Regions from separate parts of the Homo sapiens genome. Here region 1 is linked to region 2. The links come from fine-mapping of genetic effects on gene expression. A gene starts in region 2. The other region holds a variant in brackets. All regions are shown on one strand. Distances are from middle to middle.

Region 1 (8,334 bases), 490 kb after region 2:
CTATTATCAAAAAGACAAAAAAAAAGACCAATGATGGTGAGGACGTGGGGAAAGGAGAATTCTTATACACTGTTGGTGGAAATGTAAATTAATACAGTCATTACAGAAAATAGTATAGTGTTCCCTCAAAAAATTAAGAATATAAACTACTATATGATCCAGCAATCCACTACTGTGTATGTAGCCAAAGGAAAGGAAGTCAAATATTTTGAAGAAATATCTGCACTCCCACGTTTACCACAGCACTCTTCACAATAGCCAAGATATGGAATCAACTGAAGTATCCATCAAAGGATGAATGCATAAAGAAAATCTCATATATATACACAATGGAATACTATTTAGCTGTAAAAAAGGACAAAATCCTGCCATCCACAACAACATGGATGGAACTGGAGGACATTGTGTTAAGTAAAATAAGCCAAGCACAGAAAGACAAATGTCACATGTTCTCACTTATATATGGAGTCTAAATAAATGAATCACATGGAGATAGCAAATAGAATGATAGTTATTAGAGGCTCAGAGGGTAGTGAGGAGGGGGAGTGGGAACGAAAACACACTTAGATATTATAGAAGGAATATAATCTAGTGTTCAGTAGCATAATAAGGTGACTATAGTTCACAGTAATTTACTGTATATTTTTACATAGCTAGAAAAGAAGATTTGGAATGTTCTCACCAAAAGAAATAATAAATATTTGAAGTGATGGATATCCCAATTGTGCTGATTTGATCATTGCACATTGCATACATGTAACAAAACATCACACTGTACCCCATAAATATATACAATTATTGTGTATCAAAAATAAAGCTTAAAGAGAAAAAATGTAGAAGGAAAAAAAGAAATGTAAAAAAATTTTTTTTAAAAAAAGAGCCCATCTGTTGACATGATCTGTTTCTACTCACAACACCCTGACACCAAAATATGTAAGTTTTTTTCCACACCCACAACCAGTTCTCCAGCTTTCCAGACACCAACTGGGTATCCAATGATTAAATTCCATTCTGACACTAGGTACCCAGAGTTAATTCAGACCCCACAGGTTACGGCCTCAGTCCCACAAGACTGTCCCACTTCAGACACCAATCACAAGTCCCAGCCACCCATACTTCTGATAAAACAGTCATAAAGTCAGAGGTTCCCACAACCCCTTCCTCAGTTTCAATGGTTTGCTAGAACAGCTCACAGAACTCAGAAAACCAGTTTACTTCCCATTGCTTATGTATTATAAAAGCTACAACTCAGGAAAAACCAAATGGAAGAGATGCATAGGGCCGGCGATGGGGGTGAGGACATGGAGCTTCTGTGCCCTCTTCACACGTTGATGTGTTTGCTGACCAAGAAGCCCTTCAAATCCCATTGTTTGGGGATTTTATGGAGGTTTCATTACATAGGCATAACTGATTAAATCATTGGCCATTGGCAATTGACTCAGTCTGTATCTCCTCTTCTTTCTTCAGAGGTTGAGGGGTGGAAGTGAGGTTGAAAGTTCCAACTCTTTTATCCTGTCTTGGTCTTCCTGGGAACCAGCCCCCAGCCAGAAGCTATCTAGAGTCCCCCAACCCCCAGCCATCTCACTAGCATCCACTCATGTGTGGTTGAAAGGGGCTTACGAATAAAATAACACACTCCTCTCATCCCATCGTTCAGGGAATTCCAAAGGTTTTAAGAGCTCCATGTAAGGAACTAGAGCCAGGGCTGAAGACAAGGATATATTTTTGTATTATATCACAATATCGGGCTATCTTCTGCACCATTCCCTCCTGGCAGTTCTCACCACTATTATTTAAGCTCAGGCCTTGATTATTTCAGCTTGAAATAAACATTCTCCAGGAACCTCTGACCCATGATTCCTAGCACACAGTTGGAGTCCTGGCGCTTTACTGTTCACACACTTTCAAAGGCTCCCACTGCCGACCAGGTAAGACACCATCCTCCTTAGCCTGGCACTGACAGTCTTCTAAATATAGGCCTCAAAACACCTTTTATCTTTATCTCTTGTTACTCCCCTCCACATACCCTATACTTAAGTTAAAGGGAACCATGTGAATGCCCCAAACAAACATGTCAGTTTCTTACCCCATGTCTTTGCTCCTTGCCTTCCCTCCGGCAATGCCTTCCTCTCCCTTCTCTGCCTGCCTTCTGTAACACTACAGGTTCTAGTTGAAATCATGACCATCCTTCACAAAGACTCATCCCACATGTTGGTTCCCCCAGTGGGTGCTCCCTAAACACCTCAGTTCCTGCCCTCAATTGATTTTTTTCTATTTGTGCTGTTCTTATGTCACTTACTGTATGCTGCTTTATGGTGACTTCAGTTCCCTTTTAACCTGTAAGTTCATTTAGGGCAGAGTGCATGTCTTACTCCTCCTTGAACTCACATAGTATCTTGTCCTCAGATGGTCATTAAATGCATACCAATTGAAAGAATAAATGCATGAAGGAAAATAAAATCAAGCCTCAGCTAGCTGTTACATTGAATAAGACAATAAATTAATTCACACTTAGATGGAAATGACTGCTTAAATGATTATAGACACAAAGATATTTTCATTGTAATTGCAGACAATCCATTAACCAAAGAATGACACTAAATTATGGAACCTCACAAGGGTAGTGTTGGAGTTTCCTGGTGCCACCTAAAATCAGATCACCAACTATCCTGCTTTGGGTATGAACTGCCTTAATGATTGGCTAGGCCTAGGTGTTTCAGGGTCCCCAGGATGGTCAGGTCTCCCATGTGACCAGTGCAACCTTATAATGCCACTCAGTTGAAAGTCAAACAAAGCTGACTGTCACATCCACCCTGCCATCCACTACAATATGTTACTTTGGGAAACTAACTACCTACCTGAGGCTTGGTTTCTTCGTCTGTCAAGCAAGAATGATAGTCCTGCTTTTCCAAGTTCTCATGAGGAACGGTGATCCAGGCAGGCAAGTAGAAGCTGCCAATGCAGCCGTGAGCATTCAAGTTTCTACTTGGGCCTCCAAGCACCACAGGTATGCTTGTGGTTCTGTCTGGCTCCACGTGGCTTTGGCAGGAGAAAGGGAGTCTGCCTCGCTGTCTTGCTGGACACTGCAGGAAGATGTTTGAAGCCTCCCCTCCAGTCTTTGTGGAAAGTTATCATAGGAGGCAATTTGGGGCAGGCTCCCTGATTCTTATGACTTTCTCCACCTCTGAGTTCACTGAGACCAAAGGAGCTTTTCCCAGTGAGGAGAGAAAC[A/T]TTCCAATCTATTGACATAAAAATGCCCATGGGAGAGTCCAGGGGAAATCATCAGACAGGAAGAAGATGGAAGAGATTGCGTGGCAGAGGCTTCAGGAGAACACAAGGTCTCAGGGTCAAGCATGCAAAGTGAGAGAGAGAGGGAGCGTGTGCTCCTGCCAATTCCTTCTGCTGAACATGTACCCTTAGCACAAAGAGCAAACACGCACACACACACTTTAAAAATACAAAAAACAAATGGGAAGTTTTCCCTTGGAAAAAAATAGCCTCTGGCAGAAAACCATGAAGGTAATTGCTAGAGACTGGGCCCATCTCGGCCCATCTATGCTGAAACGTGGCCTCCCCATACATGAAAGCTACTGCTCGCTGGTCAGGCCAGAACCCCAGGCCAGGCCTTCCACTCTCTCTGTCTCTCCTCAGGATTCAATCTTACTGCCAACTGGCAGTGAATCTGGACAAATTGGCAGGGGCCCACCTTGCTTTAAGTGAATGCATGTGCACCTCTCAAGCTCGCAGAGGATACTCATTAGCCTGCTCCACTGCCCCTTTGAGGGAGGTTAAGGTGGCCTGTCTACCAACACCGACAGAGCCCACCTCTCGAAACCAGTCACACCCCCCGCCTCGAGGAGCAGAAAGGAGGCCTTTGCTCCCCAAATACCTGTACATAGAAAGAGCTTCTATTCACAGAGTTATATGCTGGCTTCTTCTCATGCACTAGTCTCCCCACACATTTCTGTGGCTATGTGCTATGTCCAAGTAGAAAGAAGTTCATCGAGCTGAAAACTCCCCAGAAAGTTAGACATTGAGCATGACTCTAAATATGCCCCAGGGAACACAGCCCAGAAAATTTGTTAATTAAATCTCGGTGGAAAACTAAGTCTGACCACAGTCATCTTGAGTTTAACATGGATCAGCTAAGAAGTAATGGAGATCCATCCTGTGGTCACGCTAGCCGGAACTTTGTCACCTCCCTGGGCAGGGAATGGAAGGTGCTGCCTGGCACCATCTGCTGAGGAGGCCTGGAGTCAGGGCGGATGCACAAGATTTCAAGGGAAGGACAAAGGGAAGCCTGAGGAATTGGAGAATTTCCATTTCACCCCTGCCCCTTCCCCTTCTCCTCTGAGGGGCCTGCTTTTTCGACTTTGTCACATTCTCTCTCTGACCCCATTTTAGATGAACTCTTTAAAATAATGAATTTCCTATTTGATGATTCCATTTATCTCTTTGATAAATGGAGAGGGCATCGATTGCCAAGAGCTGCCATCAACCGCCTGCCTGGATTGGGCTGGTCGGGTGCGGTAATTAGCAAATGTTTAAGGACAGAAGAGTCAGTTCCATAGTTCTGGTTATTCACAATCGCTACAGTTCTTCTTATATATCCACCAATTCCACCTCTAGGAATTCCTGCTAGAGAAACATGCAATGATTTAGGACTCAAACTAGTAACAAAAATGTTATTTATAAAGGCAGAAAAAACAAAGGTTAAAAAGTAGAAATGTACTTGAATGAGTTACAGCACAAAGGAATACTTCTAAACCAATAATAAGTACACATTATTATGTATTTATCACAAAAAATGTGTTCACAATACATGAAGTAAATAAAAGGGGATCACAAGCAGTATGATCTCATTTTGGCAAAATGAAATAGTGAAAAAAAAGTAGGAAGAGAGAAAATAAAGACAGGAGGGAGGGAAGGAAAGAAAGAATCTAAGGATATGTATTTTAAAATGCTTCTTGCCTGTAATCCCAACACTTTGGGAGGCTGAGGCGGGCAGATCACAAGGTCAGGGGATCGAGACCATCCTGGCTAACATGGTGAAACCCCATCTCTACTAAAAATACAAAAAATTAGCCAGGCATGGTGGCAGGCACCTGTAGTCCCAGCTACTCAGGAGGCTGAGGCAGGAGAACGGCATGAACCTGGGAGGCGGAGGTTGCAGTGAGCCGAGATCACACCACTGCACTCCAGCCTGGGCGACAAAGCGAGACTCCGTTTCAAAAAAAAAAAAATGCTTCTCTATATAGTGACGTTCTCTTTATCCTTATTATATGGTATAAATTTTCCTTGTAAATTTCATTTTTTTAATTAGAGAGGAAAATCATGCTATTTAAGTGCGCGCGCGCGCGCGCGCGCACACACACACACACACACACACACACACACACACACACACACACACAGAGGAGTCTGTCCACTTCACTGTCCTGTCTCTGAGATGAGATGCCTGTTTGCCAGCTTCCTGCCAAGGGGCCTGGGCGGGCAGGCTGCACCACCCCGTGGCTTAGAGCATGTTCTTGCAGTACTTGCCCACCATTCCACCAGGCCAGGTGGCACCTGGCAAAGGTGAGGAAGCAGGGGTGTGGAGGAGCAAGACAGTAGGATGCCTGGCTATCCAAGTTCTCCTATTACTAGCACAGGCTTGTGAACCAAATCAGAGCTCCTCTTACAGAATATTTTTGTTTTCCAAAACTAAAATACCAAATTGACAGGAAAAGGAGAACACCCTGAAGGGCTCTGCTAAGTAGACTATTTCACTCCATGACTTTACATTCAAGGTCAAACTAGTTTAAATGTTCGCTTCCTGTTGGGGAGCAGGGTGCATGTGCTGTCCCAAGAGGGGCTGCCTTGCTAAGGGTCACAGAGTATGATACTTAGTGCTCGCTGACACTTAGTGCTCTACAGGAGGTGGCAGGTCCCAGCAGCAGCACCAGCTCCAACACTTTGGCATCACACTTCATTTTCCAGGCCTCAGTTTCCCCCTGTGTAGTAATGGGTACTATGTATTCACTAATAACCAGCATAACAGTCAGTACTCTTCACGCTCTGTTAGAGGAGCTCCATGGGGAGCTTATGGGGAGGGTGAGTAGTGGCTTAAGTGGGAGCCAAGGAAGAAGCTAAATGGGCAATGCCTTGGACCCCCAACCCCCAATATAACCAGAGCAGCTCCACACATTATCTCTTTTATATATTTAGGTTCAAGGGAAGGATTTATTGGAAAATAGATTTCTACAATTATGACTTAGCCACCAAACCAAAAATGTAGCTCTGATATATATACATATATATATATATATATATACATATATATATACATATATATATGTATATATATATATGTATATATACATATATATATAAAGAGAGAGAGTTTTTTTTTTTGTTTTTTTTTTTTTTTTTTGAGATGGAGTCTCGCACTGTTGCCAGGCTGGAGTGCAATGGCACAATCTTGGCTCACTGCCACCTCTGCTTCCCAGGTTCAAGCGATTCTCCTGCCTCAGCCTCCCAAGTAGCTGGAATTACAGGCACCCACCACCACGCCCAGCTAATTTTTTGTATTTTTAGTAGAGACAGGGTTTCACTACATTGGCCAGGCTGGTCTCGAACTCCTGACCTTGTGATCTGCCCGCATCGGCTTCCCAAAGTGTTGGGATTACAGGCATGAGTCACTGCACCCAGTCCTGATATTCTTTTTAATAAAGTATTACCTCTAAGCACAGTGGACTTATAATTATGTTTCAGCTGAGACAGGCATTGATTGCCTGGACTCTTTTTCCTATTTTCAATGTGATTTACTCATGCAGAGGAGGGCTGCCATCTTTGGGTATAATCTCAGAAATAAGATTCAAACATTCAGCAGACAAAGATGTGTTATTAAGTCATCCTCCCATAAAGAGAGTGAGAAATCCATGAACCTGGCATCTCTACAAGGCACCTGGCACCAATTATTCCTGGCCCTGGCTAAATGGTTCTACATAAGAGTGCTCAAAAATAAAGTGGAGCTATTTTGGACTCTTTGCTTGGGTTTTATTAGGTATTTTCTTTCCATATGAGGAAATGGTTCATTGCTCTGTTCTCCATGGTACCTGCTATTTAGCAATGGTGATGTCTATGTTTGTGCATATGCACCTACATGCAATGCCCTTTGGTGGTGGACATCTGCATTTTAGAAGTACTTTGAGTGAGGGGAATATATGCCAGCTTTATTTCTTAAAATAACAGCCATCTCAGTCTGTTGTCCGTTCCTATGACAGAATACCTTAGATTGGGTGATTTATAAAGAATTATTTCTTCTGGTTCTGGAGGCTGGGAAGTTTAAGGCTGACATCCAGTGAGGGACTTCTCACTGCATCATAACACAGTGGAGGGCATCACGTGGTGAGAGCAAGAATGTGCAGGTCAGCTAGAGTCTTTCTTTTTCTTCTTATAAAGCCACCCATCCCATTTTGCCCCCCCCCCCACCCTGATGATCTTATCTAAACCTAATTTCCTCCAGAAGGCCCAATGTCCAATCAATATATGAATTTGGGGATTAAGTTTCCAATACATTCAAACCATAGTAACAGCACCAGAGCAGAACTTTCACAACTATCTGATTCCTGACCCCCAACATTCCTTCCTTTCCTGGAAATAAGAAGGAGAAAGAAGAGAGGAAACAGAAAGAGGAAAAGAAGGGATGGGAAGGTAGGAGGGATGAGAAGGAAGAGTAGAAGATAAAAGAAATTAAAATTCATTTTAGAGCAAGCTTTTTAATCTCAAGTACGCTAGATTTTTGTTCTGGATGGGCTTGGGAATTCTTAGCCTGTGTCATTTTCATGATCTTGAAAAACAAAACCATCTATGGGAAGGGCTGCCATGTGGACCTGGATTTGATTTTATTGCATTTTGCTCTCATCTCTTCTGGAGTGTTGGTGGGGACCATGAGAAGCATGAATGTCATTTTGACAGAATCCAGAGCAACCTAGCCAAAAAAAAATTCCTCTCTCTCTCTCTCTCTCTCTCTCTCTCATGCACACACACACACACACACATACTCGATAAAGATGGTCAACTGCTCATGACTTCATGCTGAGCCCCCTTTCCCTGGGCCACCTCACACCTGCCCAGGCAGTGATGAAGCTCTCGGTAACCTCCCTGAGAGGCATGACTGTTGCCTGCATATTGTTGTCCATGAAAAGTTGACATTTTCTTATTCTGAAACATTTGTGTATATGTATGTATATATATATGAAAAGGCTTGGAAGGTTGATAAATTTTTCCACCTCTGGCATGTTTTTATAACATAGTGCTGAAAAAAAAGGTGACTTCAAGGGTAGGTTTGAG
Region 2 (8,268 bases):
TTTGTAGAGAGAAGGTCTTGCCACATTGCCTAGGCTGGTTTTTACTTCCCGGGCTCAAGCAATCCTCCTGCCTTGGCCTCTGAAAATGCTGGGATTACAGGCATGAGCCACTGCATCCAGCCAGATAGTGGGAATTTTATATCCTCCCCCTTCACACCTTCTGGGGGGCTAAGAAGTCGGAGTTTGATATTACTGAGAATTCCAAAATAATTCACTCCTAAAACATTTCATCATACAAACACCAGAGGGCAAGAAAAATACAATTTACCACATGCATTCTAGGTACCAATCCACATATATTGCCTCATTTAAGGCCCATGACATCCCTGTAAATTAGATGTATCATCCCCAATTTAGAAAGGAGGAAACTCTAAGGCTTAAGATTTAAATAACTTGCCCCAAATTATAGAGCAGAATAAGGATTTTCCAACTTTAAAGCTAAAACTCTGGCCAGTTACGCCATGATGCTTCGCTTACAAGGATCAGACCTTGACCTATTTCTTGCAGGCTGTTGGCTTCTGTATTATCTAAAATTATTTTTCACATATCTGAGAAATGCTCTTATTTCTCTTACTTTACAAAATTGAATTCTTAATTCTATAATTAAGGATATTCAGGACATTCAATGAAGGGTAATTGTGAAATGGACAGGAGACCTTGAATTGTACATGCTGGAGATATAAAGCTTTAGAACTAATAGGAAAATAGATGTCTGAGGTTCTTGATTTTCCATTTGTTTTCCACTGTTTCTAAACTAAACCACTGTTTACAAAGAATGTGTCAGTGAAAGATGCAGTAAAAGATGCTTCTTTTCCTTTATTTTTAGACTCAAGTAAATATTTGTTAACAATATGGTTGATATGGTTTGGATCTGTGTCCCTGCCCAAATCTCATGTTGAATGGTAATCCCCAGTGTTAGAGGTGGGACCTGGTGGGAGGTGACTGGATCATGAGGCAGTTTCTTATGAATGCTTTAGCACCATTCCCTGATGCTGTCCTCATGAGAGTGAGTGAGTTCTCATGAGATGTGTTTGTTTAAAAGTGTATAGCACCTCCCCATTCATTTTCTTCCTCCTGCCTACTTCCCCTTCACTTTCTGCTATGATTGTAAGTTTCCTGAGGCCTCCCCAGAAACTGATCCCACCATGCTTCCTGTACAGCCTGCAGAACCATGAGCCAATTAAACATTTTTTCTTTATAAATTACCCAGTCTCAGGTTCTTTACAGCAATGCAAGAACAGACTAATACAATGGTTTACAAAGTAAGTTGACGAAGCTGAAAAATAAGTTCAAGAAGTCCTATGAAATAATTAAGATGAGTAAGATTGCAAAGACATAATTCATTACAGTGAAGATTCTCATGGCCAATTCATTCTTGGTTATGGCTTCCAACTTCTACTTTAACAGACAAATGCATTCACTTACCCATAGGTTCAACCAACCGTCTGTCCAACACATACTTAGTAAATAGAGACACACTACATGCTAGGTACTGTTCTAGGTGCTGAGATAAAGCAGAATGAAGGTTTTGAGGTTGTAATAATCTAATAAACAAATGAAAAAAGCAAGTTGATTTCAGATGCTGATAGGTGTTGTGAATGAAATATACTGAAAGGATATAGCATTTATAGTAGAAAGGCTATCTGAAATAGGGTAATTAGGGAAGATCTTTCTTAACAGAGGGCATTGGAGTTGAGACCTGAATGAGAAAGAGCTAGCTCTTTCCAAAGCAGAAAAAAGAACTCCCAGGCATGGAAAGTTCTAACAATTCAAAGGTACAAGATCAAAAAGAAGGCAGATGGCTGAGTCCAGAGTGGTGGTATGAGGCAAGGTCAGAAAGATGGATAGGATCCTGTACTACTAAAAGGAGCTTGATTGAAGGAGTCTGAATTATAATCTAAGTATAATGGAATCATTTCAGGTTCTAAGCAGGAGGTAATATGATTTGAGACAGCTTTAAAAACATTAATCCAGATGCTTGTTCAAGAATTACTTATAGGCTGGTTGCGGTGGCTCAAGCCTGTAATCCCAGCACTTTGGGAGGCCTAGGCAGGAAGACTGGCCCCAGGAGTTCGAGACGAGCCTGGGCAATATAGTGAGACCTCATCTCTACAAAAGTAAAAAAAATAAACAAATAAATTAATAAAATAATATAAAATTTGCCAGGTATAGTGGTGGGCACCCATAGTCCCAGCTACTCTGGAAGCTGAGGTGATGGAATCACTTGAGTCCATGAGGTTGCAGTGCGCCATGATTGCACCACCGCACTCCAGCCTGGGTGACAGAGTGAGATCCTGACTCAGAAAACAAAACAGCAACAACAACAACAATAGCAAAAACAGAAAAGAATTACTTATAAAGGGGCAAGAGTGGGAGGGGAGGGACTAGTTAGGGTGCAAATGCAGAGACTGAAGATAAAAAGACTCTAAAGACTCATAACAAATCTCTTTAATGGTTAAAGAGAGTTCATTGGGGGAAAGAAAGCTGAATTTATTTTAATAATGTCCCCATTTTCGGTAACATATATGCTACAAAGTCAATTATTTTATTGTTATTTGGTCACAGGTAGAGATAACGGTGTGGCTGTGGATTAGCAATTACATACACCTCCGTTGCACATTTAAAAAGGCATTTTGTTGTTGCTGCAAGAAACCACTATGCAGGGCTTTTGGTCCTCCCTAAAGGAGAGAAACGGTATCTAGGAAATTAATTCTTCTCTCAGGCCCAAATGCAAAATTGCAGAAACCACTTGCTAAATATGGTCAGCCATTTTTAAGAGTCCAGAGAGTCTTTTCTCAGGCGTACTTTATTAGAGGCCATTGATCAGTTTCTACCGATTATTATAGTTAATTGAAGGGAAATCTGCGACTATGGCTATTTATTGGCATTTGCGTTCGGCTCAGACAGAAGCTAGTTTTGAAAGTGGTATCCGTAGAGTTATCCCGCTTGCACACTTCCTTGCCTAGGGGTGGTGGGGGAGCGCTGAGGGCTTGCGGGGTGTCAGCCACCAGGGCTTTCTGCTCATCAGTCAGCATCGTCAGACATCCTGGAAGTGTTATGATGGCGCTGAATGTAGAAAAAGGGTTCTCAGGGCGGATATATTGTCGTCATTCCTGGTGGCAGAGGGGAGTGACAAGAGGCTCACACGTCGCTGGGTAGTAGCACGCATAATAAAGTGTGGTTTGCACCATGTGTGCCACAGATTTCTCGGGTTTTCTGGAAGGCTTTTCCAAGTTCCGCCTTCTCCCCTTTAAAGCCATCCTGGCCCCAGCTATGCATCGGCCTTTGACTCCATCTGTCCTTCCGCTGCGGACGGGAGTCCCTCTCGCCAAATGGAGAACACAAGTTTGGCACCCCAAAGTGATGATAACCTCTACCCTCTTGGCTCAGCGCGAGCCAAGAGTCAGGCCTGCAGAGGGACGGTCAAGCGGATGGAGGGGGAGGCCGCGGAGAGGCCGCTCCTCTCACCTCCCCGCACCCATCATCACTTGGCACTTGGCCAAGCCCAGGCAGACGCCCCGCCTGCGCGTCCCCCACCCGCCCCGCGGTGCACGTCTCCCAGTGCTTTTGCATTTGCTCCTCTTCCGCCCTGCTGCAGAGCGCGGCTCGCAGGTTGGAGTTTGCCCTCGTGTGCGCCGCATCACACGGCAGGGAGGGGAAGGCAGGCGGCGGAGGCTGGGTCGGAGCAGGAGTCGCGCGGTCCCTGGCGCCCGGAGACACAGTGGGGAACCACCGCCCCGCCCCCGGAGCAGCGGACAGGGCCGCAGACCTCCCTTCCCCCCTCCCTCTCTCCCTCCTCCCCAGCGCCCTGACTCCCTGCCTCCACGCCCTTACTCCACCCCCTACTCCGGCCAGATCCCCATCCTCTCCTTGTGTGTGCGCGCTTCATATAATCTCCTCCTTTTTGGCAAAAGAAATAATGCACCTGACTTTACCAGGGGGGAACAACCAGCCGAGTAGAACAAGGAACAGATGTAAAGGGAATAAAAGGAGAGAGAAAAAGAGATGAGATTCGTTTAAAGAAATCCAGGGGCAGAAGAGGTGGCTGCCGCGGCAGAGGCAGCTAGAGCTTACTTCCCTGTCTGCGTGAGCTGCAGGCAGAGGACGCTTTCACCAGTTGCAGATGTAACCTCGGGAATTCCTGGGCCGTCGGTTTGTTTGCCAAACAAAGTCTTTTCTTCTCTGGCTCAGACACTGAAGAGGCTCCTGGATTTTTCTGCGATCCTGCCACAAGCTGGCAGTTACCCGAGAGCCTTCCCAAGGAGCTGGAGGAGAAATGAGCCCTTGTGGGCGGAAGATGGGCGAAGGGCGTCAGCAGCGGCGGGCTCCGGTCGGGAAGCTCCTTCTGCTCCCCGGGAGGAGAGATACACCCCATGGGCGGTCAGGCAGCAGCGGCGCCAGGACGCAGCGCTCCCTGCTCTGGCTCTTGGTGCACGTGTGGCTGTGGGCGGCCTCGGGCTCCTCTGCCCAGTTGTTCAACCTCACCCTTTCCGTAGATGAGGGGCTTCCCCCGGACACGCTGGTAGGTGACATCCGCGCCGGGCTGCCGGCCGCGCAGCAGCAGGAGGGGAGCGGCTTCTTTCTGTCGGAGGACTCCGATGACTCCCCGCTGCTGGACGACTTCCACGTGCACCCGGACACCGGCATCATCCGCACTGCGCGGCGCCTGGACCGCGAGCGGCGGGACCACTACAGCTTCGTCGCCGCCACGCTGCTGGGCGCTGTGGTGCAGGTGGAGATTCGCGTCAACGACGTGAATGACCACTCGCCCCGCTTTCCCCTCGACTCCCTGCAACTCGACGTCTCCGAGCTCAGCCCGCCAGGGACCGCCTTCCGCCTGCCAGTTGCCCACGATCCGGACGCCGGACTGTTCAGCACTCAGGGCTACACCCTGGTGCAACCGTCCGACCTGCCCAAGGACCCCGCAGGCCCGTTCTTCCAGTTGCGCTACCGGACTCCGGGGCCACTACCGTCACCGCTTTTGCCAGGCTCCTCGTCACCCCTGGAGCCTCTAGATCTGGTGCTGCTGCGGCGCTTGGACCGAGAGGAGGCGGCGGCGCACCGGCTGCAGATCGAGGCATGGGACGGCGGCCGACCCCGGCGCACCGGCCTCCTGAGCGTGGAGCTGCGCGTGCTGGATGAGAACGACAACCCGCCGGTCTTTGAGCAGGACGAGTACCGCGCCGCGGTGCGCGAGGACGCCCAGCCGGGCGCCGAGGTCTGTCGCGTGCGCGCCACCGACCGCGACCTGGGGCCCAATGGCTTCGTGCGCTACAGCGTCCGCGCCCGGCAAGTGCCTGGGGCGGGTAGCGGCGGCGGGGCACTGGGCGACGCGGCCTACTTCGCGGTGGAGGAGCTGAGCGGCGTGGTGCGAGTGTGGAGACCTCTGGACCGCGAGGCACAGGCCTGGCACCAGTTGGTGGTGGAGGCCCGCGATGGAGGCGCCGAGCCTGAGGTTGCCACGGTGCGCGTGTCCATCGCCGTGCTGGACGTGAATGACAACCGGCCAGCAATTCACGTGCTCTTTCTCACAGAGGGAGGCGTCGCCCGTGTCTCTGAAGGCGCCCGACCGGGCGACTACGTGGCTCGCGTCTCGGTGTCTGACGCGGACGGTGACTGGGAGAAGGAAGATGAGGCCACAGGGGAGCTTGGTGTGGGTCTTGGAGACGGGAGCATCTCTCTGTCCTTGGAAGGCGGAGAGGGAGACTTCGCGTTGCTACCCGGCGGCCCCCCAGGGGTATTTTTCCTTTGCGTGGAGGGGCCCCTGGACAGAGAGAGCCGCGATCTGTATGAGTTACTACTGGTGGCCACGGACGCGGGGTCCCCGCCGCTGAGCACGGAGGAGACGCTGCTACTCCGGGTCGCTGACCTCAATGACCAACCACCTCTCTTCAGCCAACAGCATTACAAGGCCTCAGTGTCCGAGGCCGCGGCCCCTGGCACTGTAGTCATGTGGGTCAGCGCCTCCGATGCCGACGAGGCAGGCAGTGATCACGCCTGGCTGCGCTACACTGTAGTCCAACTCTCGGCTCCCTGCAATCTCGGCTCCCTGCAATCAAAGATGGTCCACACCGCAGAGTGTGGACCATCTTTTGCCATTGATTCCGAAAGCGGTGCGATCAGCACTATCCGGACTCTAGACCGAGAGGTCCAGGAGGCGGTGGAGCTGAAAGTGGTGGCCCAGGACCTCGGAGAGCCCCCACTCTCTGCCACCTGCCTGGTGAGCATCACCGTAGATGATGTGAATGACAATGAGCCCATCTTCTGGAGGCAGGTGTACAATGCCACCATTGCAGAGCATGCCCCGGTTGGACACTGCTTTCTGCAGGTGAGTGCATCAGGCCTGTGGGCCAACCTGAAGGCTTGGGAAGGGATGGAGAGGGTTGTGAGTTGGCCTAGGAAATTGTGATGTGGAGGATAATATTCCGGCTCTCAAATACAAGACTGGCGGTAGTGCCCCCTCTACAGTGAGATGAATGATGCCCTCTAGTCACCTAACTTTTTTTTGCCAGGGTCTTGGCTACATGATCTCTAAGGTCCTTTCAACTTGACTTTTAGATCTTGATTTATCTTATTGAAGCCTGATTTCTTTCCTGCTGGATGTATGCACCTAAATAGGTTCAGGAGGAACTGCCCATTCTAAATCAGACCTCTTCCAACTGACAATGTCTCACATCATATCATATAAATACATGTATACACACACACACACACACACACACACACACAGACACACACACACACATATATATATTTTTGTCAAACAGAGTGTCACTCTGTTGCCCAGGCTGGAGTGCAGTGGCTCAATCTCGGCTCACTGCAACCTCCTTTTCCCAGACTCAAGCAATTCTCCTGCCTGCCACCATACCTGGCTAATTTCTGTATTTTTTTAGTGGAGATGGGGTTTCACCATGTTTGCCAGGCTGGTCTCGAACTCCTGACCTCAGGTGATCTGCCCTCCTCAACTTCCCAAAGTGCTGGGATTACAGGGGTGAGCCACCACGCCCAGCAATGTCTCATATATTTTTTTAACAGCTTTATGAGGCAACCTAGGGAATAAGGTAGTTCTCGTAAGTGAGTTTTTAAAATGACCAAGTGTATATCTTTATACACTGACACTGTTTTGAGTTACCTTTTCCAGAGACTTCTTACATGTTTTCCTACCTTCCTTCGAAGCTTACAAAGGTTGGATGAAGACTGAAGTCATCTTTATTAGTTAGCATCAGGTGTGAGCTAAGCTTCTTCCATGATGCTTTCAGGACTCTGAGGGGCAGTGGGACTCAATTATCCTTTATAAAATGGGGCACTGTACACTGCTTTTTGATTTGGGTGTTTTGCCTCTTGTAGTTTTCCTGATCTCTCCTTCACTATCAGAATGGCATGTTTTGCCCCCTTCCAGGCCATTCCTTTTTTTTTTGCTTCCGATTTCCTATTTGTTTCTTTTTTATTTTTTTGAGACAAGGTCTTGCTTTGTGGCCCAAAATGGAGTACAGTGGCACAATCATGGCTCACTGAAGCCTGGACCTCCCAGGGTAAAGTGATTCTCCCACCTCAGTCTCCCAAGTAGCTGCAAGCACAGGCATGCGCCAACATGGCTAGCTAATTTTTAAATAATGTGTAGGGACGAGGTCCAGCTGTGTTCCCCAGGCTGGTCTCGAACTCCTGGGCTCAAATGATACTCCCGCCTCAGCCTCCCAAAGTGCTGGGATTACAGGCATAAGCCACCTTGCCTGGCCAATTTCCTATTTCTTATCTGATGGGAGATAATCAAAGTTCCAAGACTGATTTATTTACTCTGAAATAACTTGAGTAAATATATCTAGCCTGAAGAGCTTACCAGGGCATGAAGCTCTAAAGCTTAATTTTGCTCTCAGCCTGGGTTGTTTTAAGATGTTTGCTGCTTACTTTCTGGTTCTCAGTTAGGGAGTTCAGGCTTTAGCTTTGCAAATTATGTCTCAAATAATAACCTTTAGATAATTGAGGTGCTACTGCAAAGTAAAAGTGGGTTTCATGACTGCTTCCACCATTTTAATCTTTTGGGTATATGGGTGATAATAATCTCCATCCCTTTCTTTAGAGTGATTGCCAGCTCTGAGTTGCTAGATTATTAAAAAGTGGCTTGATATGAATTAATGCTTGCTGATGAAATGGACAAATCCACAAATATTAGTGACTAACACTGTCAAAGTATATTTCTCTCTCAAGCAGAGTCTGATGTGAAGCAACTTGGCTGTTTCTCCTCCGTCTGAGAGAGCCAGGCCTGAGAGT

Which allele goes with the higher level. Alleles are on the strand shown, and positions count from the first base shown. SD is a standard deviation of normalised expression in the study named.
For the expression in fibroblasts of the gene that starts at base 3,833 in region 2, allele A in region 1 goes with a higher level than allele T (large effect, 1.1 SD a copy in GTEx).

Evidence for each region.
Region 1: its variant is fine-mapped to the expression of DCHS2 in fibroblasts (GTEx, PIP above 0.99).

The regions. Positions count from the first base shown.
Region 1 is chr4:153,999,986-154,008,319 of GRCh38, reverse strand. All of the region lies in intron 8 of LOC101927947 (a long non-coding RNA gene), which reads right to left. Among named protein-coding and RNA genes, the nearest start is that of SFRP2, 220 kb to the right of the region's middle. The variant A/T (reference allele first, on the strand shown) is at 3,232.
Region 2 is chr4:154,487,364-154,495,631 of GRCh38, reverse strand. It overlaps DCHS2 (dachsous cadherin-related 2), which reads left to right and starts at 3,833. Exons shown (of 20, transcript NM_001358235.2): 1 at 3,833-6,328. The coding sequence starts at 4,277. RefSeq lists enhancers at 3,403-3,452, 4,255-4,434, 4,485-4,624, 4,093-5,048, 5,049-6,005.